Linked DNA regions of Homo sapiens. The protein of the gene in region 3 purifies or fractionates together with the protein of the main gene of each other region. This does not show direct contact. Each region holds a gene or a part of one and is shown on either strand. Other genes may lie near its edges. The genes, in order: IQGAP3, ARMCX5, CRYBB3, HELZ, TTF2, CDC42BPG and TCF7L2.

Region 1 (4,260 bases), on a different chromosome or scaffold from region 3:
GCCTTGGCCTCCCAAAGTGCTGGCATTACAGGCTTGAGCCGCCACCATGCCCAGCCGAAACATCTTCTCAACAGACTTGTTTAGGCAACCCTGCTCAGAGACCTGAAACATCTCCCATGTGTCCCTCCTTCTCTTCCCAGGATACCCTTTAATAGGCAGCCTCCTCCTGTGCTGGAGGCATTACTTCTCTTTCCTCTGTAGCCATCTTCCTGTCCTCTTCCTCCTCAAGTCTACTCATGGAACTTCCCTCAGTACCTCCCAGCTGGGACATCCAGAGCCTTCCTTGGCTTGAAACTTAACTCCTTTTCTTATCCCTAATTAGACTGAGTTCTCCAAGAACTGGACCTGTGTCATCCTCGTTGGTTACTCTCTCAGAGGTGAGGTAATAGAACCAACCAGAATTCATCATTCACTCATTCATTCATTCATCAATACCTCCTTTATGCCAGGCACTGGACTAGCAGACCCCTACTCTTAAGAAATGCAGAGATAAAGGCCTGCATGGTGGCTCATGCCTATAATCCCAGTACTTCTGGATGCTGAGGTAGGTGGATCGCTTGAGCCCAGAAGTTTGAGACCAGCCTGGGCAACATGGTGAGACCCTGTCTTGACAAAAAATACACAAATTAGCCTGGTGTGATGGTGCAAACCTGTACTCCCAGCTACTGGGCCTAGACCTGAGCCCAGGAGGTCTAGGCTGCGGTTAGCCATGATCGTGCCACTGCACTCCATCCTGGACAACAGAGATATTGGTGGGTTTGTTTTGTTTTTGAAACAGGGTGTCACTCTGTCACCCAGGCTGGAGTGCAGTAGTGCAGCCTTGACCTCCTGGGCTCAGGTGATCTTCCCACCTCAGCCCCCCCACCACCAAATAGCTGGGACCACAGGTGCGCACCACCATGTCTGGCTAATTCTTGCGTTTTTTGTTGAGACTGGTTCTCACCATGTTGCCCAGGCTGGTCTTGGACTCCTGGGCTCAAGTGATCCTCCCGCCTTGGCCTCCCAAAGTGCTGGGATTACAGGCGTGAACCACAGCGCCCAAAGATTATTATCAGAAGAGAAAAACATCTGAATAAATTAATCTAACATGATAAGTATGATTATAGCCCATGCATAAAATCTATGGGAGCAGCAGAGGAAGCAAAGGATTCTAGCTATGAACTAGATCTTAAGGAATAAATAGGCGGAACACAGGGAAAGGCAGTCCAACAGAGGGAAACATGCCACTCACTTGGGATTAAGTGGAAGGACAAAGAAAATTTTAAAAGATCACAAAGGTATCTTCACTATCCTTTTTGGTATAGGTCACCCGAGGAGGAAAAGAATCTTCAAGCTAAATAAAATACAGAGTACTGATTCCAAAACTCAAGAATAGAGAATCCCTCAAGTGAGACAGCAATCATAATTTGCCTTAGTTACAGTCTCCCTTAATCCTTCTCCCTTCTCTCCCCTCTCTCTATTCTCCTTAGAAACACAATACAAAATCAAACAGAAAGAGTAAGAGAAAGCTACACACACAGTAAGAAAATAAACTCAGAGAGCTTGAAAAAAGGCAGAGCTTAGCCAATCTGTCTTTGACTCAGCACTTAATGTCATTCCCGGTTGTTATCCTATTTCCTTATATTGCATATTCTGCAATGATTCAGGGAAGGGCAGAGCTTATATGAATGAGCAGTTAAGTAAATTAAAACACATGCGTGCACACACACACACACCCCTCCAAATACAGATTTGAAAACACTGGCCAACCACAGGAAAGCCATCAGTTCCTCCAAGGGGGTGTACAAGGAACAAGTGTTGGTTGTTAAGCATGGAAAATAAACCAGTAAGTGAATGACATCATCTCAGAGTTATGAACTGAGGACTGTGGGCGATGGGAGGGATTTTGTACATACACATGCTGTCTCAAAAAAATAAAAAACCGAAAAACAGTTTTCCTGTCCTTCTCAGGTCTGGAACTAGTTTTCCTTTAACAGAAGACTGGACATGGACTTTGCTCTTTGAATCCTAATAGAAAGGAAGGGAGTGGTGGAAGGAGCAGGTTTTCCTTTCATTCAGAAAATCAGATAGAACCTTTCTGCCCCACCCATCCTTCCAGCTCCAGTCTCTCTCTCTAAAACAGTGTCTTTGAAAATGTGGCCCAGGGACTACCTTCCTCACAATCACCTGGGGTGAGGGAAGAAGCACAGCAGTGCTTGTTATAAATGCAGATTATGGGCCCCAAACCAGACCTTCTGGAACTGAAGCTCTGGGACAGGTCCCAGGAATCTGCATCTCAAACAAGCTTCCCGGGTAATTTCACCCCCTGTTTGACAGGCATTGTCTGAAAGCGGCATCTCAAAGCCTAAGAGTCCCCCAGATCCCTTGAGGCGTCTTGTCCGGTGGCATCGCTGGGCAAGTTTGGTAGCCAGCAGTAACTGCTGAATTTCAAGGAGCCATTAGGATCACCTACATTCTCCCGACTCCGGAACCCCAGAACTTGGAAATAGGAAGAAAGTTCTTTGTAAGCTTTAAAGCGCAGCACATTAGTCAGGGGACAATGCGCCGCTCACAGTTCCACTCGGGCCCACGGCGCCCGGGCTGAGGATTCCCGTCCCACTGAGCAGTCCCACCGCCCTCGCCCCTCAGGCTTCACGCCCGACACACGCCCCAATCTCTCCCGGGACAGCCAAGCCCCCGACCAGCGGCACCACTGCGAGACCCTTCTCTGACCCTCTCCGCACTCACAGGCTGCCCAGCCTGGGCCCGCTGCTCTCCTCTCCATGTTCCTCCTTCTTCCAGGTTTGAATCTCCCGCCGTTGGGCCACCGCCCCTCACCGTCGGCACCGCCAGACAGGACACTTCCCGTCCACACCGCTGAGAATCCTGGGATTTGTAGTTCCCGGCCGCGGAGCCGGGCCGCCCAGGTGCTGGGAGAAGAGGCGCCCCAGGCCGGGGCAGTACCGCTCCCCTTACAGCAGTTCCTCGTCTTGTTCCTTCCAGGCTCCTTTTCTGCTTAACAGTCTTATTCTAGCTGCTGCCCCTGCCATTGCCTCTGTCATCTCCACCTAGTATTCCCATTAACCCCTACTCTGCTTCCTATGTGTTCCCGAGTCCGGCTAACTTGTGGGCCTACTTGGCGCTATGCACTAAGCTAGGTGATGCGAATGCAGAGATGTATGAGGGCAGTGAATGCTCTAAAAGAGTTTGCTGTTCTGGCACAAGTGATAGACATATAGTCAAATAAATTAGAGGTCGGTGATGCACAGAGGGAGGGGGTCATTGCTGTGAATAAGAGCAGCGAATGACAGGGAAGACGTCCTGGTGGAAGTGACAGCTGATTTGGGTTGAGAAGTGAAAGAGAATTCATCAGATTGAAGAAGAGAGGCAGTGCAGTCAGTGGAGACAGCATGTGCAAGAACGAGGAGGTGAGTTCGGGAACTTAAACTTGGTTCAGTTTTAGAGGAGAACAAAGCTCAGCCAGGGAGAGGCCAGAAGGGATCCTGGAGGCACAGGGCCAGGTCCAGTAGCACCTTGGGCACCATGCTAGGGCCCTGGCATGGGGTCTGGTGAGCAGTCACCAGCCAAGGAACACTTTAGACATAGGTCAGAGCCAGATTTGTCCTTTAAAAAGAGCCATCTTATAGCAGGGGATTGGAAGGGGGTGAGGCTAGGGGCAGAGACCAGTTGGAAGGCTACTGCAGTAGCACAGAAGAGAGATAATAAGAGCCTGAACTAGGCCAGGCACGGTGGTTCACACCTGTAATCCCAGCACTTTGGGAGGCGGAGGCGGGCAGATTAACTGAGGTCAGGAGTTCAAGACCAGACAGGCCAACATGGTGAAACCCCATCTCTAGTAAAAATACAAATATTAGCCAGGCGTGGTGGGGTATGCCTGTAATCCCAGGTACTCCGGAGGCTGAGGCAGGAGAATCGCTTGAACCCAGGAGGCAGAGGTTGCAGTGAGCTGAGACTGTGCCACTGCACTCCAGCCTGGGCGACAGAGTGAGACGCCGTCTCAAAAAAAAAAAAAAAAAAAAAAAAAAGAGCCTGAACTAATAAAAAATAATTATGACACCAACAACTATGCTGAAAAAATATTATCTGATAGGTTTCCCCATCTTGTATTTCTCCTTTTACCCTTTCCCCACACTCCATCCAAACAACCAAGCAGCCTAGGCTTATAGCTTGGGCAGGTAGGAGAGGAGAATGTGAAAGAACAGAAAACAGAAATCCATACCTAGAGCCTTCAGAGGAACAGAGGAGACTCAGGGGCTGAGA
Region 2 (4,048 bases), on a different chromosome or scaffold from region 3:
ATGTGTCCTGGTCATTGCTCCATCACCAGCTTTGGCCTGGGTCACTGATTCTGTTTTCAGTTCTGCCTCAGCCACTGCCTCGGCCTGGGTTTTACCATTCACTCTAGCAGTGGCAGGACCACTGATTCCATCTTGCAGGCCAGCCTCAGCCTTTCCTCTAGCCCTTGCTTCTGTCCCAGAGTCAACCATGTTCCAAGTTTAACGTAAGGACAAGTTATATACCCCCACCCGTCTCAGCCTTGACTGAAGTTTTGTCCCGGTTGGTGTTTTCACACAAAGTCCAGTAGTCACTCTGTCCCCTTTCCAACTACAGGCTCTGCCAGTGATATAGAAAACATGCAGAGGAAGCTCACTCAAGGTAGGGAAGGATGGCTGTGCATGGGCCCAGCCCTGTGGAGGGTGGTGGTCTTCAGCCACTCCAAGGCCACCAGATCTGCCACTGAAGTAGGACCTAGGGGTGGAGGAAGGAAATGGGGCTTTGAGTCTCTTCCAACTTTTTTCTCCTCATGCTGATCAGCACAGGGAGACAGGAGAATATGGTGATTCAGTGCTAGGTGAGAGAGGTAGATAATTAGCAAACTCTCTCTCCCTTCATTTCACCCACTCCCTACACTTCCAAGTGCCATCAGCCTTCTTTCCAGTCACCAAACAGGAGCATAAGGAGTAGGAAAACTGGATGAGAAGCTGAGGAATCCCTTTAGTGGTTCTTGACCCCTGCTGGAGCCAAGCAGCTCTCCACTACTCCATCCTACAGGTCTACCCAGGCAATCCCCACACTCATACCAACCTGCACTGATCTGGAGTAACTTTCTCCTCCTTACCTTGCTTCCAATGGTGACAAGCCCTACAGCAGATCTACAGGCAGACCTATGGACAAATAAACAAACAGGAGAATGTGGAAACTGATCTCCTGGTGACAGACCTTGGTCCCTTGCCCTTATTCTTGCCTTTCCAGATTTTGTCTAGTGTTTCCCTCCTCCTATCCCCTCTCCCCCACTGCTTTGTTTCAGGGCTACTCCTCCTCCTCCTTCCTATTGCCCACCATCTTCCTCTTCAGTGATTGCCCTAGAATGTCCCTCGTTCAGATTAGACTAGGTTCAAGCGTGAGAGCAGGACAAGCAGTGGAGAGTGGGAAAGGCAGCTTAGCATTCTGTACCCCCACAACTTACCAAGACTCCCAACTAAATCAGCAGCAGCAGGGGGTGGGGCAGATGGGAATAATTGGTAAAATGACAAAACAGAAGAGATGGAATTCTCTAGTCGAAGTTGCCCCCCTGTCCCTGTACCTTTACACCAACCTTAACAGATACAGGGCAATTTTCTCTTCTTCGTAATTTCCTAGTTTTAAGTTGGGTGACCATTTTACAAAACTTCACAACTGACAGTTCCACAGACCTGGGGACAGATCTACCTACAGGGATTCACAAAAACAGAGACCAATAAATGAAGACACAGGAGACAGTTGAGGCTGTTTTTGGTAGAGACCAGCACCTAGGGCACAGTTTCTTTCTGGATATAAGTACCTGTTTGGCAAACATTTTCTATCTCCCCTTTTTCTCCCACTCCTAAATCTCCAAGCCCCTCTGCTCTATTCTCAAAGTCTGACAATTCCTATACAGAGACAACTCAAACATCCCTACAAGGTAGTAGTAGTGGTGTTAGTAGGGACGAAATGCCTAGACAAACCACGGAGGCTGGGGAAAAAATGAAAAGTATTTATTTCCATATTTCATCTGGGTTCCTATGTTTCCTTCCTCTCTCCCAAAGCCTATCATTTTCTGCAACATAATGCGGGTAAGGGAGGACATGTTAGGAAAGCTGGCAGAGAGTTCTGGAGGCTCCCTTACACTCCTGCCTACTCTAATCTTAGCCATCTACCACCTCCAAGTACTGCCTCCCAAGTACTGCCCACTCTGTACAAACCAGGCCAATTTTCTTTTCCTTCTCCTCTCCCCTTGAGGTCTGCTGTCCCCTACAGATCTTTACAGAAACATGGAGTGCTGCAAACTTAGGAACAGATTTACACATAAAAACGCGTGATACACACCCAAAGAACAAATGAAAAGACAGAGAGAGAGACGTGGTTATTAATGGTCAGACCAGTAACCAAGACATGAGACCCTTTTCAAATCCAGAGCCTTGATTATCAAACATTTACAACCTCTTTTTACATTCTCTCCCTCTCAGGGCTCCCCAGACAACTGTCCTCGCCTGTGGAAGTAGCCCTCTCTTCCTCATCTAGTCTGCCTTTTCCCTGCTAGAAGCTGCAACCTTTTTCTTCCCAAGCATGGTCTGAGGTGAACCGAGTGTATGGAAATCAAGCTAGCAAAAGGTAGATCATTTTTTTTTAATTGTTGTGTGCCATTCCAATTACCCATCTCTCTCTCCTTCTCACCGCCCGCCTCCCATGACCAGGTCGCGTATCCAGTGTTCACCTCTGATACCCACATCCACCCCCAAGCGATGCGCACCTTCTCACTGACCTTCTCTGCTTGGATCAGAGGCAGTTTTCTTATTTCCTTGCCTCGAGGTGCTGTGTCATACAGCAGCAGGAACAGACAGTCAGACACAAGGACTCGAGGCAATGGCGGCGGCTGTGTATGGGGATTGACTCGGCACCTGGGACTCAAGACGAGATAACCGCTTTATCAGATTAAAGACTGCGATTGGCAAACTGTTGTCACTTTTGGTATTCTTTTCTCCTTCCTGTTCCCAGGGCTCCTCAGAACCTCGCGCGTAGTTACCATTTAACATCTACCTTTTCCTCCGCAGACGAGGTTCTTCCACGTCCGCGTTACCCACAACGGCAGTGGGAGGAGCTAGAGCGTAGTTTATGGGGATCCGGCTTATGGAAGCGGAGTGATATCAGGCTTTGTTTAGCGCCGCGACTCTTTTCTGTCGGAGGGCTCCCTGTCCTGTACCCTGTGGCCGCTTCAGGTATTGGAATGCGCAGGGACGAATTCCGGATATAGGGAAAACGGCGCTGGAACAAGAGAGGCAGACAAATACCAGAGTGTTTCTGTATTAGTTCCCCTTTTGCGGGAGCTCCCCCCACCAAGCCTACCATTCTTTCCTGAACTGAAATGCACATGGGTTTCCAGCTGTGGTGTCAGGAAATCTCTTCTGGCCTGACAGGCGGAAGTGTTCCAGTCTTTCGAAGTTCGTTCTCCAAACACAGAGGCCCACTGAAATGGGCGGTCTCGGGGTGGGGCCCAGGGTAGGAAAGTCAGCAAAGAGAGTCAAGACTGAGATAGGAGGATACATACTAATCGATTCCACAAACTTTGTGTTCCTTCGAGTCCTCCCTCCCAGCCCTTAATTTTCATTTTCTTTTTTTTTTTTTTAAGTTCTAGGATACATGTGCAGGATGTGCGTGTTTGTTAAATAGGCAAACGTGTGCCGTGGTGGCTTGCTGCACCAATCAACCTATGACCTAGGTATTAAGCCTGGCATGCATTAGCTATTTTTCCTAAGGCTTTCCCTCACCGCCCCCCACAACCCCTGACAGGTCCCAGTGCGTGTTTTTCCCCTCCCTGTGTACATGTGTTCTCATTGTTCAGCTTCCACTTATAAGGGAGAACATGCAGTATTTGTTTTCTGTTGCTGCATTAGTTTGCTGAGGATAATGGCTTCCAGCTCGATCCATGTCCCTACAAAGGACATGATCTCATTCTTTATTATGGCTGCATGGTATTTCATGGTGTATATGCACCACATTTTCTTAATGTTATCACTGATGGGCATTTGGGTTGATGCCACGTCTTTGCTATTGTGAATAGTGCGGCAATGAATATACGTGTGCGTGTATCTTTGTAATAGAATGATTTATATTCCTTTGGGTATATACCCAGTAATGGGATTGCTGGGTCAAATGGTATTTCTGGTTCTAGATATTTGAGGAATTGCCACACCGTCTTCCACAATGGTTGAACTAATTTACATTCCCACCAATGTAAAAGCGTTCCCATTTCTCTGCAACTTTGCCAGCATCTCTTGTTTCTTAACTTTGTATTAATTGCCGTTATGACTGGTGTGAGATGGTATCTCA
Region 3 (2,531 bases):
GGGTGAGGGTTGGGTCCCTTACGTCCCGTTGATGGCACGGACACTCGCCACACGGTCCTGGAAGCCATGAGCCCACAGGCTGGGCACGTCATCATCCACTATCTCCATCTTGCGGCCACTGAAAGCTGGGTTCTCAAACAGATGCAGCTTGTGATGTGGACTATCCTGAGGGCAATATCGTGGGGTGAGCGGCTGCTCCCATATCCAGAACAGAGGTCAAGGAGGCTCCAGATGCCGGAAAGAATCAACAGGTCACCACAAAATAACACCCACCCCCAAACCTGCTGCAGGAGGGAAGGGCCTCAGGAGATGCCTCCACCCCCAAATTCACTGTAGGAGGGACGGGGAGATTCCTCCAAAGCTGGTTGATTTAGGAACCTAGAGCCGTAGATTATAAAACTGAAAAGGAATTTCCAGATCTTGTTCAATCCCATCATTTAAATGATAGAGAAACTGAGGCCAGGAGAGGGTGGACAGAGATCAAAAGTATCAACATATGAGCTTTCCCTCTTTCCTAACCAGATGCCGGTTTAATCTTCCCAGTTTCCCCTCTTCCACTGCCCTCTAAGGAGGACTCAGTTATGTGACAAAGAGAAAGGGCTGGAGCAGCTGCGGGGTGTGAGTGAAGCAGGGGAGGGAGAAGGGTGGTGTTTAAAGTGTCACTGTGGGCCGGGCGTGGTGGCTCAGGCCTGTAATCCCAGTACTTTGGGAGGCCGAGGCAGGCAGATCACTTGAGGCCAGAAGTTCAAGACCAGCTTTGCCAACATGGCAAAACGCCACCTCTACTAAAAATACAAAAATTAGCCCAGCGTGGTGGCATGTGCCTTCAGTCCCAGCTACTCAGGAGGCTGAGGCAGGAGAATCACTTGAACCCAGGAGGCAGAGGTTGCAGTGAGCAGAGATCATGCCACTGCACTCCAGCCTGGGTGACAGAGCGAGACTGCAACTCAAAATGAAATAAAAATACATAAATAAAAATGTTTAAAAAGAGAGAGAGAGAAAGACTGCACTCCAGCATGGGTGACAGAGCAGGAGTCTGTCTCGAAAAATAAATAAATAAACAAATAAATAAAAAGTGTCACTGTGGACTGTGTCCCTTTCAGGTGCTAGAAAAACACAAGTGGAGAACTTAAAGTATTTTGGCTACTTTCTGAAGTTATTTCCTGGACTGCATTTCTTTGATAACAATACTGATTTGAGACTGGGCCATGTGGCTCATCGTTTTAGTACGGTTACAAAGAAAAGTCCCAGTGCTATGCTGGTTTAATTCAAGATGTGAGTCCTGGTGTCTCAATCCCCAACCGAATGTCCCTTCAATATCCCACTTCTTGTCCCACACAATTGTTCAAATCAGAAACATGAGGGCCCTTCCCAGGCCAGGTCCATATGGGCCAAACCCTCAGCCCAGCTTGTGCAATGAGCTGCCTGACCAGCTCTCAGTGCACCCTGCTTCCAGGAACACCCAGAAGTGAGCAGGAACCACACTCACAATATTCAGAGGCCGGAGGGACAGAAGGCTGTCACTATCACGGCTGTTGGACCAGGCATCCCAGCGAGGATAATCCCCCTTCTCCAGAACAAACTGCTCCCCGCGGAAGGCCCTGGACTCAAATGCCAGCCACCTGAGGGAGGAAGAGGCTTGGCTGGGTCACCTTTGCTGCAGCTGAGGAAGGATTCAAGTTTAGTGAGAGAAGTGTCCAAGAGCTGCTGACCTTGAACCTTGTACCCTCCCTCCAACCCTACTGCTAATTCCTGGACCTGTAATTAAAGGAGCTGCTAGGACATACCGGGAACTGTCTGAGACTCTGGGCCAGAAAACCATCCTAGGGTATGTTATTGAGAATCTAGCCTCTGTGCAAGGTACCCAGAAAAGTCTTTAGCACAATGCCCGGTACACAGTAAGTATTCCATAGGTGACAGTGACTTCTTCCTCTTCCTTTTCCTCTTCTTTGTATTGTATTGTTATTAATATGTATTTATTTGCATCATTCCATTCATTTTCATAAAAACTCTCTCTGAAGTACGTACCATTGTTATCCCCATTCAACAGATGAGAAAACAGAGGCCTGGTGTGTGAAGCAACTTGCCGAAGATCACCCAGATGGTTAGTGCCAGAGCCTGGACTTGCAATCCAAAGGCGGGAATTCAGGGCCCAGCTGGGAGACCTGCCTGCCTTGTGGACATGGATGGGACACTTACCAACTTTGGCCTCAGTTTCCCCATCTATAAAGTGGGAATAAGAATGATACCTCTGTCACAGGGTCATGACGATTCAATGACATAATGCATGTTAAATTTTAGGTGTTACAATTATTATTAAAATTATAAATATTAAATCCCATGTTCCAGTCACTGAGTTAGGTGCTAGGTTGACCTTGCTGTTCTTCCAACCTCAGGTATCCTGGGATTTTCTGCAGACATCTAGGATTCTAGAGAATTCTTCAACTCTCATTTTACAGATGCGGAAAACGAGGCCAGAGAAGGCAGGGGAGCTGTCAAAAGCCCCACAACAGATCTAGAGCTCAGACTGG
Region 4 (3,530 bases), on a different chromosome or scaffold from region 3:
AAAAAATAATAATAATTTTAACTCTGATGCCTCATAAGGAAAGTATTAAAAGCCTTCTAATTTATTTCTGTAGTATTACCATTTTCTAAGTGTAATAATGAAAGACGAAGACACCATAGCTGACCAAGAAGATTAATTACTGTGAAATAATAAATACTCAAGACTAAACTGTTTTTAATTAACAGGTATTTCAGCAAAAAGTAAATAATCTGAAAGACTAATAGTATCAATAGAGGTAGTACAACCACTAGGAAAAAAAGTTCAACCTTTTGTTTCTATTGATATGTTCTCCATATTTAGATCCTCAAAACTGCAGATATATACAGTCATTCATGACACTATGTAAATAGCAGATAACAGGAAAAACAATTCAATACTTAACCAAGTTCACTGGAGCACAAAGTAATCGCCACTCAAGAATGCTGACACAAAAACTGAAGGACCTCTCAAGTTCCAATAGCACGCAGATAAGCTGAGCCCCTATGCAGTTACTCATCTGAACAGAAGTGGAAGATTAACCTACCCTCACTCATTTCACACACTAACCTGACAAGGCAGCAGGCAGTCTCTTCGGAGCTTGTTCATCATTCAGTCTGTTCCAGAAGTAACCGATTCCGTTAGGATCTGTGCCTTCAGGTTACCACTGTTTCACTACAGCCCTGTATCACTTCACCCTTGTCCCACCTTATTCTTTCAGGCATTATAAAATTCTTGTTTTCTAAATAAAGTTCTAAACCTTACTCACCTGCAGTTCACTGCACTGGGTATCACCCAAATAGCCCATCAGAGCTCTTTATAATTTCTGAAAGACAAAGAAGAAAGTTTTTTTAATACATAGTAGAAAACACCATTCACCAAGATATCAGTTCCAAAGCATTTGTATCCAATATTCCCAGCATATGGTCTTTTGGTCCACACTAGTTCAATAAAATGTAGCATGACCAGCACTAGACCAAGAGTCTTGAGATAAGCCTCCAAAGATTAAAAACAAGCTTGGTTTAATGTTGCTACTACTGAGCTGTGTGACCTTGAGCAACTCATTTAATTTCTTCAGGCCTATATTTCCTTATCTGGAAAATAAGTCACTTAGACTAGCTAGAGAAAGAAGAGCACAGGCTTTCCAGGAAGAACACCAGCTCCACTACTTTACTGGTCTCGTGACGTTACATTAGTTGAGTCACACTTAAGCCTGAATTTCTTCCTTTGTAAAATGGAAATAACTATCTCGTGAGTTGCTATGAGAATTAAAGGAGATGATGAGTTATAAAAAGCCTATAGTAAATATACTGTGCAGCTTATCCTAAAATTCAACAGATGGTAATTCATTACTACCATTAACCCCCACCAGCCCTAACATTACATGAATTCAATTCATGCATATTTCTTTTAAAAGATCAACAAATCAAAACTTTACCAACCTGACTAAAGAACTAACTGTTTTCATGTTTCACAATTCAAATTACAGTTATCTTAAGCTGATGGTAGTTTATCATTATTACTTATCACAGAAAATAAGAACAGAATAGTCCCTGCACAACATCCAAACTCTGGTTCAATGACCATGCCTTTTCTGACTTCTCACTCTACTTCCACACTGCCAGAATATCTCAGGAATAGAGAGGTCTTCCAAAAGCTAAATGACACCCAGCTGTTTGCCAGATTCAGCTCAAGGGAGCAGGACTAGAGACAGAAGAAGAACAGAGGCTTTTCTTTTTTTTAACCTTTTTTACTTTACATAAGTACTGCTCAAATTTGTTTACCATAAGCATACAGGAGTTTTGCATAAAAGTAAATAATTTTTTAAAACTGTATTAGTTAAACACGTTGCCTACTGACAGGAAGCTCGCATTATAGGACATTTTCATCACAACAAAGATAATTTCTGCAGAAGGAAGCAAAAAGGCAAATTCAGATGTGACAAGAACACCTAAAATATAGCACAGAAATGACAAAAATCACAAACATTCACACTTCAGAATAGTTCAGTCAACAAAGATGCCATGCATTCTTTGAAGAACCTGACGATGAATCAAGTTCTTTTTTGTTCAAAGACAAGATATATGTATACACTCTGCTTTACCAAACAACTTCCTGCTCTTACTTGGAGAAACTGACCCAGTACAATTCACAAAAGTAAACAAGTTGGTATGACTGTTGGTATTAGTTGAAAAACTTTCCATTTCTTTTGAATAATTAAAAGTTGACCAAAATAGTTATTACATGTATATATAAATAAAATTCTTCCTGTTACATCTACAGTGGTCTTTTAAAAAGAGGAATATTCACTTCTAACAGATTCAAGATTACTGAAAACTATTATCCCAGCCACCCTCAAAGCAATAAACCATCATGTTATATGCTGCTTCTAGCCAATGCTACAGAAGTAACCCTGACTGCACTCATCAACTGAAATGAATGGTAAGATAGTATGGCATACTCTCCACTTGTATCACTTTTCTTCTAGAAAACATTTCAAAACATTACTTAGAAATCCAATTACATCTGCATGTATATTCACCTAAGTTTATGAAAATTAAACCTAAAAATTTGCTTATAATTTTTTAAGTAGTTCCTCCCCATCTCTTGGATAACTGTTGTTGATACACCTGGCCCGAAATCTTCTATACATTTGAAACAACAGGCAAAGGTCCTTATTTCTTGTATGGGGCCTGTATTTGGATCTTAGGGTCTCTGACAGACAATTATAGACTAATCTACATTCAATATTAATGCCAAGCCTACTGCTTAAATAGAGAACACATGCATCTGTAAGATCTGGGCTACTTACTTGTAGGTCCCTCTGCACTATTCTTAGCCTTTCATGAATATGCTGTAGATTTTTTAATTACACGAGGCCCTTTGCAAGTAAAAATGACTTTTCCTGTTGTTTTGGCATCACTCCTCTTCCAGTGAAAACTGGACAGTCTATAAATATATACCAACTTTAAGACAATGCATTTTAATATCTATGGCATTAGAAAATAAAACTTCTTGTTAACAAATGCAATAATCAAGTTTACCAGCTAATAGAAAGGTACTTACTCCCAAAAACTACAGCCTTACCTAAAAATAGTGTCCTAGCTTCCCAGCCAAAAGGACAGACTAAAAAAGCTCTGTCTTTATTCAGCTCAGAGACACAGACTTCTACCTCACCACAACCTTCAATACTATGGCATTTCCCATTTTAGAATACTTTGTGTAACAAGTTGTTCAGTGGCCAACCACTAACTTCGCTTTGAAATGAATACTAACACTTCACAGAGTCTACATGTGTGAGAACTGTGGAAAATGTCTTGACACAATTCAGGTCAAACAACACTAGCCACACAAGATTACCTACTTCTAAGTATTCCATTTTAGACTACAAACAAACATCTCCACAGTCAAAAAGCAGACCACTGGCTCCTTTCCACAAAATTATCTGTAGGCTTCAAGAAAAAAGATAAGGCCAGGCATGGTGGCTCACGCTTGTAATCCCAGCACTTTGGGAGGCCAAGGCGGGCAGATCACCTGAGGTCAGGAGCTCGAGA
Region 5 (2,658 bases), on a different chromosome or scaffold from region 3:
CATTTTTTGTAGAGATGGGGTTTTGCCATGTTGCCCAGGCTGGTCTCAAACTCCTGGCCATCTCAGCCTCCCGAAGTGCTGGGATTACAGGCCAACATGTATATATTCTGTTTGTTGTCTGTCCTCTCATATTAGATTGTAAGCTCTATGAGGGCAGGGATATTTTTAAACTACCATACTGTCCCGATGTAGGACAGTTCCTGGCACATAGTAGAGACTTAATATTATGATCAGTGAATAAAGATCTAATTGGTAGAATTTTTAGTTTGGATCTCCTTGGTATCTGTTTTTATAAGCCAGACTTCCCTTCTCCCGAACCTCAGTATTTGTCATTTAAACAAATACCACTTGGAAAAAAAATCAGCCTTATCTCGAGTCTGTTGGATAAATTATATGCACCTGAGAGACCAGCCTTGAATTTTCCAATTACCTCATACATCTAGGGAACTGCTTCCCATGAAGAAGCCTGTTGTATTATATCATCTATCCCCATGTGCCTTTTAATGAATCTGATTTCAGAATTGAGAACAAAAAGCTTACCATTTATTTCAGTTGGAGGTTTCAGTGATTGGACAACTTTATGTAGATGAAGTAACATTGCAATAAAAAATTTCCAGAAGACATCTAGGTTCTGGCTAATGTGTTAGCCTTTAAGCAATATTAATGGTAACAATTCTGTTACAAATATTTAAAGTTTGTGTGTGGGTGTTGGGGATTGGGGGTGCTGTCTCATGCATGCACTACAGTGGAGTCCAAACTCAATTTAACTGAGCTGTCTTGCCTGCTGAAAGACCTGGCAGAGTCAGTGATCAACAGAGCCCAAGACTCCAAGGTGAGGCAAAAAAAGAGTGGGAGGATTTAGGAGCTGTCCCCAGTGTAACAAAGTGCTTCAGAAATCACCTTTGAATTGTGAGCATTGAAGCGTCAACAAGATGCAGCATTATGATGTACGTTATGCCTCTGGTGTTACAGGTAAGAAAAAAGAGTCACAAATAAGAGCCTCTGTCCTCTGGGATGTTGTAACAGGATAAACACCTTGGCTGTCTTGGATAATAAACATACACATACCTGTCAGCCCACCCATACTCTAATGTCCCAAATGCAATAGTTGCTCAACTTTCCTCCAGAGAATGTATCCCTGTATGGTAGGTTTGGCTCAATGAAGAGGTGGTTCAATGAAGTGGATGCTCATTAGAAGCAGGCAGTATAGGAAGAAACATCTCACTCTGACTTGTGAGCTCTTACATATTGATTTCCATTCTTTCATCACTTCCTCAGATCTTCCCTAACTAGGTCAAATCCTGTTATAAGCCCTCCCAGCCGCACAGTCCTCTCTTGTAGCACTCAGCATCATGGCTGATTCACAGCCACACGGGGTTGACTAATGCCTGTCTCCCTTAGATGCTAAGCCTCAGGAGGACAGGATAGTTTTTCATTTTTGCTTACTTTTATATTTCCAGTGCCCAGCAGTGCCTGGCATATAAAAAGTGTTCAATATACATTTCTGAATTACTGTGTGGATAATTAAGCAAGAAAATAGTCTCATCCTTTCTGAAGTAGTCTCTACCTATTAATACATCTGGATTTAGCTATGGAATCTGGGTAAAAAGAACTCAAGATAGTAAAAACATTGTGTAGCTGCATATCTGTCGCCCCTCTTCCCTCCCTGGGAGTTAGGCTGGGTTTGCTTTTTTTTTTTTTCATATCTATCTCCATCCCCTAACTACTGACTTCTGTGGTAGTTTGTACTATAAATGACCCTGATTTCATTTGTAGTTATGAAGACATTTTAGTCTAGGTCATATGCCTAGGAATTCTGAATTTCTATTATAATTCTCTTTGTGCCTACAGATGTGCTTTTAAATTGTTCCTGCCCTTTCCTAAGTCTAGATGCTATATCACAAACAGCAGCACAATATCCCACTTTGGAAACCTAATTCTTTCAAGGTATTAGAGTTGACAGCAAAATTTCAGACAACCAGAGGCCACACTGAACACTGGTGTCTCCATGCTTATCCTATTAGTGCAGGAGAATCTGGCTTCACCTTTGAGCCCTGCTAAAAGCCATTTCATTGAGCAACAGACAATCAGAGCAAGGAAACAACTCAGTGTTCATGAATTGCCATGCTAAATCACTCACAGGATTGATAGAGAAATAAGTCACCTCCCATAAACAGAAAATTTTTTTTTTCTGTTTTTCCTTCTTTTCATTAGCAATTGTTCCAAAAACACTTACTCTGCTAATTTCTGCTAGAAAGAATCACCGTTCTTTCTCTGTGGCCCAGGCTGGAGTGCAGTGGTATGATCTCAGCTCACTGTAACCTCCGCCTCCTGGATTCAAGTGATTCTCCTGCCTCAGCCTCCCGAGTAGCTGCAATTACAGGCACCCAACATCACGCCTGGCTAACTTTTGTATTTTTAGTAGAGAGGAGGTTTTGCCATGTTGGCCAGTCTGGTCTCGAACTCTTGGCCTCAAGTGATCTGCCTGCCTCAGCCTCCCAAATGCTGGGATTACAGGTGTGAACCACTGCGCTGGGCCTGCAATGGGAGTCACTGACAAGGTTTTTAAAGGGCCCAGGACTCTGTCTAGCTGCGGCATGCACAATACTCCTATTTGATCAACATGGCTAAGGCAAAGTCAAACTACATACCTTCCAT
Region 6 (3,530 bases), on a different chromosome or scaffold from region 3:
CGCCTCCACCCCCGGCGCTACCCCAGGGCTCTGGCGGACCCTCACCTTCTTGAGCGGCACGGTCTGCACCCATTCTGCCCTCCTCACGTCAAACACATCGATGGAGTTCTCGCTGAACACTGTCAGGTAGGGGGCCGCATACCCTGCGGGCACGCCAGGCACCTCTGAGCTGTTTCCCCCTCTGTTCCACAGGGAACACCTTGTCCCCTGCCACAGCACAGTAACTACCATGCCCCACGCTAAGGTCCTTCCTCTGAAGACTCCCTGTCGCCCGGCCCAGCCTCCACATCAAATCAGAGATAACCCTGGACCACTCACCACATGCCTGGCTCAGTTCTAAACACGACATGCTTTTCCTGCCTTAATTTTCTAACAACTCTGAGCAAGTACTACTGTTATAATCCCTAATTTCCAGATGAGGGAATGGAACCCCTGGAGCCATGTGATGGTCAAGGTCAGGTCACTCAGCTGGTCCTGAGAGCTGCGATTTGGCCCTGGGCAGCTTGGGTGATATGCGGCACCCAACCTGCAGGCCCCACCCCAAAGAGCCATTGCTCACGAAGGACACTCTGCCCCTCTCTTCCAGCCCTTACCCATCATGCTAGTTACTTGTGCATGCACCAGACTGCCCCACTGCCTCATTCATTCATTCATTCACTCTTCCACTCATTCCTCCAAGCCCATCGCCCCTGGAGTGTGCCACCCTGGGCTGGGGGCTTGATGTGGATGAGGAAACCAGCCCCGGCCCATTCTGTGGGACCCCAGTGCACCAAGCCAGTCATGAAGTGGAGGCGATGAGAGCCGTGACACAGGTCTGGACGGAGAGAGAGTGGGGCAAAGAGAAGGAAAGGACCAATGACGGGGAAGCAGGGCGGGGAGCACGAAGGCAATGGTGACCACAGCAATCGCAGCGGTTATCTTTGGAGCGCCTACCAGCTCCAGGCCCTGAGCTGACACTGGGGTGGTACCTAGTTAAGAGTTTGCCAGGTACAGGCCGGGGCCGGTGGCTCACACCTGTAATCCCAGCACTTTGGGAGGCCGCGCGGGAGGATTGCTTGAGTTCAGGAGTTTGAGACTCCCAGCCTGCGCAATATGGCGAAACCCCATCTCTGAAAAAATACAAAAATTAGGCTGGACGCGTTGGCTAACGCCTGTAATCCCAGCACTTTGGGAGGCCAAGGCAGGTGGATCACTTGGTCAGGAGTTTGAGACCAGCCTGGCCAACATGGTGAAACCCCGTCTCCACTAAAAATACAAAAATTAGCTGGGTGTGGTGGCGTGCACCTGTAGTCCCAGCTACTAGGGAGGCTGAGGCAGGAGAATCACCTGAACCCGGGAAGCAAAGGTTGCAGTGAGCCGAGATCACACCACTGCACTCCAGCCTGGCGACAGAGTGAGACTCCTCTGTCTCAAACAAAACAAAACAAAAATTAGCCAGGCGTGATGGCACACACCTGTGCCCCCAGTTACTCGAGAGGGTGAGGTGGGAGGATCACTTGACCCCAGGAGGCGGAGGTGGCAGTGAGTCGAGATTGTGCCACTGTACTCCAGCCTGGTGACAGACAGAGACCCTGTCTCAAAAGAAAAAAAAAGTTTGCTAGATAGAAACAAAAGGAGAGCGGCTCAGGCAGGAGAGGAGCATGAGCTCAGCCATGGAAAAGGAAGGTCCCCTGCAAGCCACAGAGGGTGGGACAGGGTGTTGTTGGGCTGGAGGATGCAAACTGGCACCAAAGGCCTCCAATGCCAGGCTCATGAGTTGAGGCGGGACCCTGTCTTCACCCACCCACTGAAGGTGCCTGGCCCCCCTGCCAAGCCCTCAGCAGGCCTTACCCCAGCCCATGGGCGCTGCTGGCCACAACAGCTCGTGGCCACGAGACTTGCGGCCTGCGCCATCCACGTAGATGCCAGCAGTGGTGAAGAGTAGCAGGAACTCGCTGAGGCTAAGCTCCACGGCACCCAGTGCCTCACCCAGGCCCCCGCGGGATGGTGGCAGCTCCTCAGGCACCAAACCGGCCCCCAGCGCCAACGGCGCAGCCTCGTTGAGCAGCGGGTAGAGTGCAAAGCCACCGGCGGCGCCCACACATAGCCGGTCGCCCAGCAGCCCCAGGCTCTGCACAGTGGCAGGTGCCTGCAGCTCACGGATGCGGCGCTGCCAGGGCCCAGGGCCCGGGCCCAGCTGGTAGCAGAGCACCTGGCGCTTGACGGCTACACAGAGCACCGGGGTGCGGGCCTGCAGGATGCTTCCAGCTGCCAGCACCTGGCAGCCTCGAGACTCGGGGATCTTGGCACCTGCTACCTCTATGTTCTCCAGCTCCGCCAGGGCAAAGAGACGCACGCTGGGGCCGCGGCCACACAGCACGACCAGCAGGCCTGCACTGGGGCTCAAGGTCAGCTGCTGCACGCGCCGGCACTCCCCCACCTGGAAGATGTCTGCAGGGTTGGCGAGGGGAGAGTGTCACTGGCAGGTGGTTGAAGAGTGACCCATCCCCATCCTCCTCTGCCCGCTGGGGCTGCCCCTGCCCACGCCCACCCTAGCCCAGCTTTGATAGGTACCGTTGCTGCGCAGATGGATGACAAAGAGCCCCTCCTCGGTGCCAAGCGCAAGTCGATCCTGGTCTGGTAGAGGGAGGCAGAGGGTCAGAGGTCAGCAGTCCCACTCAATGACACGGAGATTGGGCAGTCCACCTGCCCTGCTGTGCCTGTTTATCTTGAGGAAATGGGGGTGGCAATAATCCCGCTGTCCCTGCCTCACTGACCCTTCTCTCCCAGTCTGGACAGGCTTTTCCAGAGGGGTTGGGGTGAGGCCCATCATCTTGAGCTGTGGGATTTTGGGTAAGTCATGTCACCTCTCAGAGCCTTGGTTTCCTTATGTAAACTGGGGACAACGATGGTACTTCCTCACAGAGCAACTCTGAGGAAGCGAGGAAGTGATGCAGGGGAGGGTTCAGCAGAGCCCCTTGCTCAATAAATCCCCTCCCCTCTGGTTCCCGACTGCTCCAGGGACCCGCACAACCTCTCCTGTGTCTCCCGCCCTGAGAGCCGGGCCTGGCTCAGGGCCTCAGCTGCTGGGGAACGCCAAGGAGCTCTGTTTCATGCCTCTTTCCCAGCCTTAGTTACAGAAGAGCCCTGCTGAGCCCCAGGTTCAAGGCTGAGCACAAGTGAAGCTCTTCGCAGCTCCACCCAGGAGATGTTATGAGGCTCTGGGTGGTTCTACAGCAGCTCCCCCAGTCCCCCAGCTTGTAGTGAGACAGCCAGGACTGAACCTTCGTTTCTCTCTTTCTAAAGCCTTTGTTCCAGCTGGGCACGGTGGCCCATGCCTATAATTCCAGCACTTTGGGAGGCCAAGGTGGGTGGATCACCTGAGGTCAGGAGTTCGAGACCAGCCTGGCCAACATGCTGAAACCCCGTCTCTACTAAAAATACAAAAAATAGCCAGGCGAGGTGGTGCATGCCTGCAATCCCAGCTACTCTGGAGGCTGAGACAGGAGAATCGCTTGAATCTGGGAGGCGGAGGTTGCAGTGAGCTGAGA
Region 7 (2,496 bases), on a different chromosome or scaffold from region 3:
AGGTACCAGAATGCTCCTAGCCAATCAGGGCTTCTAGCTTGCCACACAAGGTTTCTAGTTTCATTTGACATTTGTGGACATTTTAACAAGATTCTGTTTTGAGCCCACCAAGTTGCTTTTCCCATCTTTTCACTCTGCCCTAATATAGCATGGAATGCTGCTTGGTGCTGTTCCCTTGTCTTCCTGGTTGTTCTCCCTGCTTCTTTCTTTCTCCCTTTCCTTTCCTCTCTCTGTTTTTCTCTGTTGCTTTCTCAGTTTTGCTTATGCCCTCCCCCTCCCCACCTCCTTTCCTTCTCCCATTTTTAAAATGCATGGACATCTTAGTTTTTTGAGCATGTTTTGATCTGCAGGCTAAGGTGGTTTAAAACTCTGAGAGGCTTAATTATTTATCTTGGTTTCTGGGATGGAAGCAGAACCCATAGTCTATTTACTCTCTCCCAGGGAGAAAAAGGAACCTTGCCAAATTGAGGGTGAGAGGGGGTGGTGCTTGCTCCCCTAGAGTTCCTTCTGACCCAGAAGGAACAGACAGACCCTGAGGCCACTAGCCCCCATGAATCTCAGCCTCTGGGAGGCAGGGAGGACTGAGCATGCTCCCTTACACCCCTCCCCTCCTTCCCTGCCTTCCTGCCATCTTGCTGAGTCCAAACCCCAAGCACAGAGGGGCATGATCAGACAGCTCTGGGGCACAGACTGAGAGGAGGAACTCAGCACACCCTTCCTTTCCAAGGCCAGTGACATTGTCTGACAGTGGTTGCCTTCAAGCAGGCAGCATCTTGGTTGCTTCCAGCGGCAGAAAGCTGGCCAGTGCTTACACACGTGTTTCCAGTTGGAGTGTTATCAGCCATGGTTCTGACAATATTCTAGGGTCCTTAGATGAGCACACTTCCTGTATCTGCATTATTTTTATAGCATTAGTGGGGTTGATCCCCAGGCTCACCTTTCCTTACCAAATACCATCCCATCAGACTGGGATTAATGGGAGGAGAAGCTTTGAAGTCACATGCTCAATTTCTTGAGTTGATTTTCCCCGACCTCATCCTTTGATGCTAAGCAAGAAGGGCTCTGAAATTCTCATTCCTATTTCTTACATGAATGAGTAGTGAAGAGGGGAGATGCTGGTTTTGGTGCAGGGCAAAATTAGTCTTTCTGGTTTAAACACGAATCACGATAACCCAAACCCAGGAAGGTCCATGCTGCGATTCCCTGGCACTTCTTCTTTGTAGTCACTTCGGTGACCGGCTTGTGCTGCACCCTCCATTGACTAGCCTTGGCATATTGACAAGAGCAGGATGCCCCTCCATCCATCCCATCCTCACCATCTCTCCTTCCAACCTTCTCACTACGGGGTGGGGGAGGGGAAAGCCCCAAATCTTAAAAAAAAAAAAAAAATCAAGTTTGAATCTTAATTTAATCCACAACCTGCAGGCCATACAACCAGTTATTCTCGTTCCTTTGAATCATTTTCTGTTTTTCTTATTCTTCCCCCTCCCCCACCTTTGTTTATCCTCTTCTACCTGTTTTTGGTGGTTTCTTTTTTTTGTTTCGTTTTTTGTTTTTTGTTTTTGTTTTAAGTTTATTTTGTTTTATTTTTGTTTCCCTTCCTCCCTTCTCACCTGATTCTGACCTCTCTTGATTTGGTGTGGTTCTTAACAGACAAGCCCGAAAGCTCTCTGGGCGCCAGCAGCCTCATGGTGGTGGTGTGTTAAAACCTTTAAGCCTCTTGCTAGCGCTGCCTTCAGCTATGTGGGCTCAACAGTGAGCATTTTGAGAGTTTCATATTGATACGAGGCGGCTGGGGAAGGAGCTCTGTCTTTCTCTTTTAAACACACACACACTCACACTCACACACTCACACACACACATCACTGGGGGATGGGGGTGGTAGTGGTGGGAATGGGAGTGAAGGGCCGAGGAAACTTGATGGGAAAGTGAGGGACTGTCTAAGCCAAAAGAGCTTTTCAGTTCTTCTCAATTTGGACAAAGCCACTTTTTGGCAAATAGATGCCACCATCTGCAGGTGGCCGCCTCCATGCTGCTCTCGTATATAATTTGGGCATGGTGGGGCATGGGTGTTTAGTAGGGGTTGGGGGAAGCAAGTAGAGAGTTCAGACTCTTAAATAAGTTGTTTGCCAGAGCAGGCTTAGATCTGGGCACTGTGAAGTAAGCGACCCACCCTGGGGGGGCGCCACTGTAATTGTCCTCGGACCACTGGGCGTGCCACCTCTGTGGGACATCCCTTAGGTGACCTCAGCTTGGGTGTGAGCATTAGGTAACTCTCTCCCTTGGCATCTGTGCCCTCTATTCACAGATAACTCTCTCCCCTGTTTCTAGGAGAAAAAAAAAGTGCGTTCGCTACATACAAGGTGAAGGCAGCTGCCTCAGCCCACCCTCTTCAGATGGAAGCTTACTAGATTCGCCTCCCCCCTCCCCGAACCTGCTAGGCTCCCCTCCCCGAGACGCCAAGTCACAGACTGAGCAGACCCAGCCTCTGTCGCT

What was found.
Region 1: the proteins of CRYBB3 (region 3) and IQGAP3 purify together in Homo sapiens (affinity purification with mass spectrometry; one large-scale study listed by BioGRID and IntAct). This does not show direct contact.
Region 2: the proteins of CRYBB3 (region 3) and ARMCX5 purify together in Homo sapiens (affinity purification with mass spectrometry; one large-scale study listed by BioGRID and IntAct). This does not show direct contact.
Region 4: the proteins of CRYBB3 (region 3) and HELZ purify together in Homo sapiens (affinity purification with mass spectrometry; one large-scale study listed by BioGRID and IntAct). This does not show direct contact.
Region 5: the proteins of CRYBB3 (region 3) and TTF2 purify together in Homo sapiens (affinity purification with mass spectrometry; one large-scale study listed by BioGRID and IntAct). This does not show direct contact.
Region 6: the proteins of CRYBB3 (region 3) and CDC42BPG purify together in Homo sapiens (affinity purification with mass spectrometry; one large-scale study listed by BioGRID and IntAct). This does not show direct contact.
Region 7: the proteins of CRYBB3 (region 3) and TCF7L2 purify together in Homo sapiens (affinity purification with mass spectrometry; one large-scale study listed by BioGRID and IntAct). This does not show direct contact.

The regions. Positions count from the first base shown.
Region 1 is NC_000001.11:156,569,766-156,574,025, forward strand, and holds the start of IQGAP3 (ras GTPase-activating-like protein IQGAP3), read right to left. Parts: upstream 2,801-4,260; 5' UTR 2,765-2,800; coding exon 2,728-2,764; coding exon of another isoform or gene 2,713-2,727; intron 1-2,712.
Region 2 is NC_000023.11:102,598,283-102,602,330, reverse strand, and holds the start of ARMCX5 (armadillo repeat-containing X-linked protein 5), read right to left. Parts: upstream 2,817-4,048; 5' UTR 2,484-2,816; exon of another isoform or gene 2,472-2,483; intron 1,412-2,471; 5' UTR 1,299-1,411; intron 868-1,298; 5' UTR 822-867; intron 452-821; 5' UTR 190-451; coding exon 1-189.
Region 3 is NC_000022.11:25,202,854-25,205,384, reverse strand, and holds part of CRYBB3 (beta-crystallin B3), read right to left. Parts: intron 1,623-2,531; coding exon 1,490-1,622; intron 166-1,489; coding exon 23-165; intron 1-22. UniProt on the Homo sapiens protein: Crystallins are the dominant structural components of the vertebrate eye lens.
Region 4 is NC_000017.11:67,238,688-67,242,217, forward strand, and holds part of HELZ (probable helicase with zinc finger domain), read right to left. Parts: intron 803-3,530; 5' UTR 746-802; intron 1-745. UniProt on the Homo sapiens protein: May act as a helicase that plays a role in RNA metabolism in multiple tissues and organs within the developing embryo.
Region 5 is NC_000001.11:117,105,317-117,107,974, reverse strand, and holds the end of TTF2 (transcription termination factor 2), read right to left. Parts: 3' UTR 522-2,658; downstream 1-521. UniProt on the Homo sapiens protein: DsDNA-dependent ATPase which acts as a transcription termination factor by coupling ATP hydrolysis with removal of RNA polymerase II from the DNA template. May contribute to mitotic transcription repression. May also be involved in pre-mRNA splicing.
Region 6 is NC_000011.10:64,827,641-64,831,170, forward strand, and holds part of CDC42BPG (serine/threonine-protein kinase MRCK gamma), read right to left. Parts: intron 2,708-3,530; coding exon of another isoform or gene 2,638-2,707; exon of another isoform or gene 2,617-2,637; coding exon 2,554-2,616; intron 2,431-2,553; coding exon 1,831-2,430; intron 144-1,830; coding exon 46-143; intron 1-45. UniProt on the Homo sapiens protein: May act as a downstream effector of CDC42 in cytoskeletal reorganization. Contributes to the actomyosin contractility required for cell invasion, through the regulation of MYPT1 and thus MLC2 phosphorylation.
Region 7 is NC_000010.11:113,163,224-113,165,719, forward strand, and holds part of TCF7L2 (transcription factor 7-like 2), read left to right. Parts: intron 1-2,331; coding exon 2,332-2,496. UniProt on the Homo sapiens protein: Participates in the Wnt signaling pathway and modulates MYC expression by binding to its promoter in a sequence-specific manner. Acts as a repressor in the absence of CTNNB1, and as activator in its presence.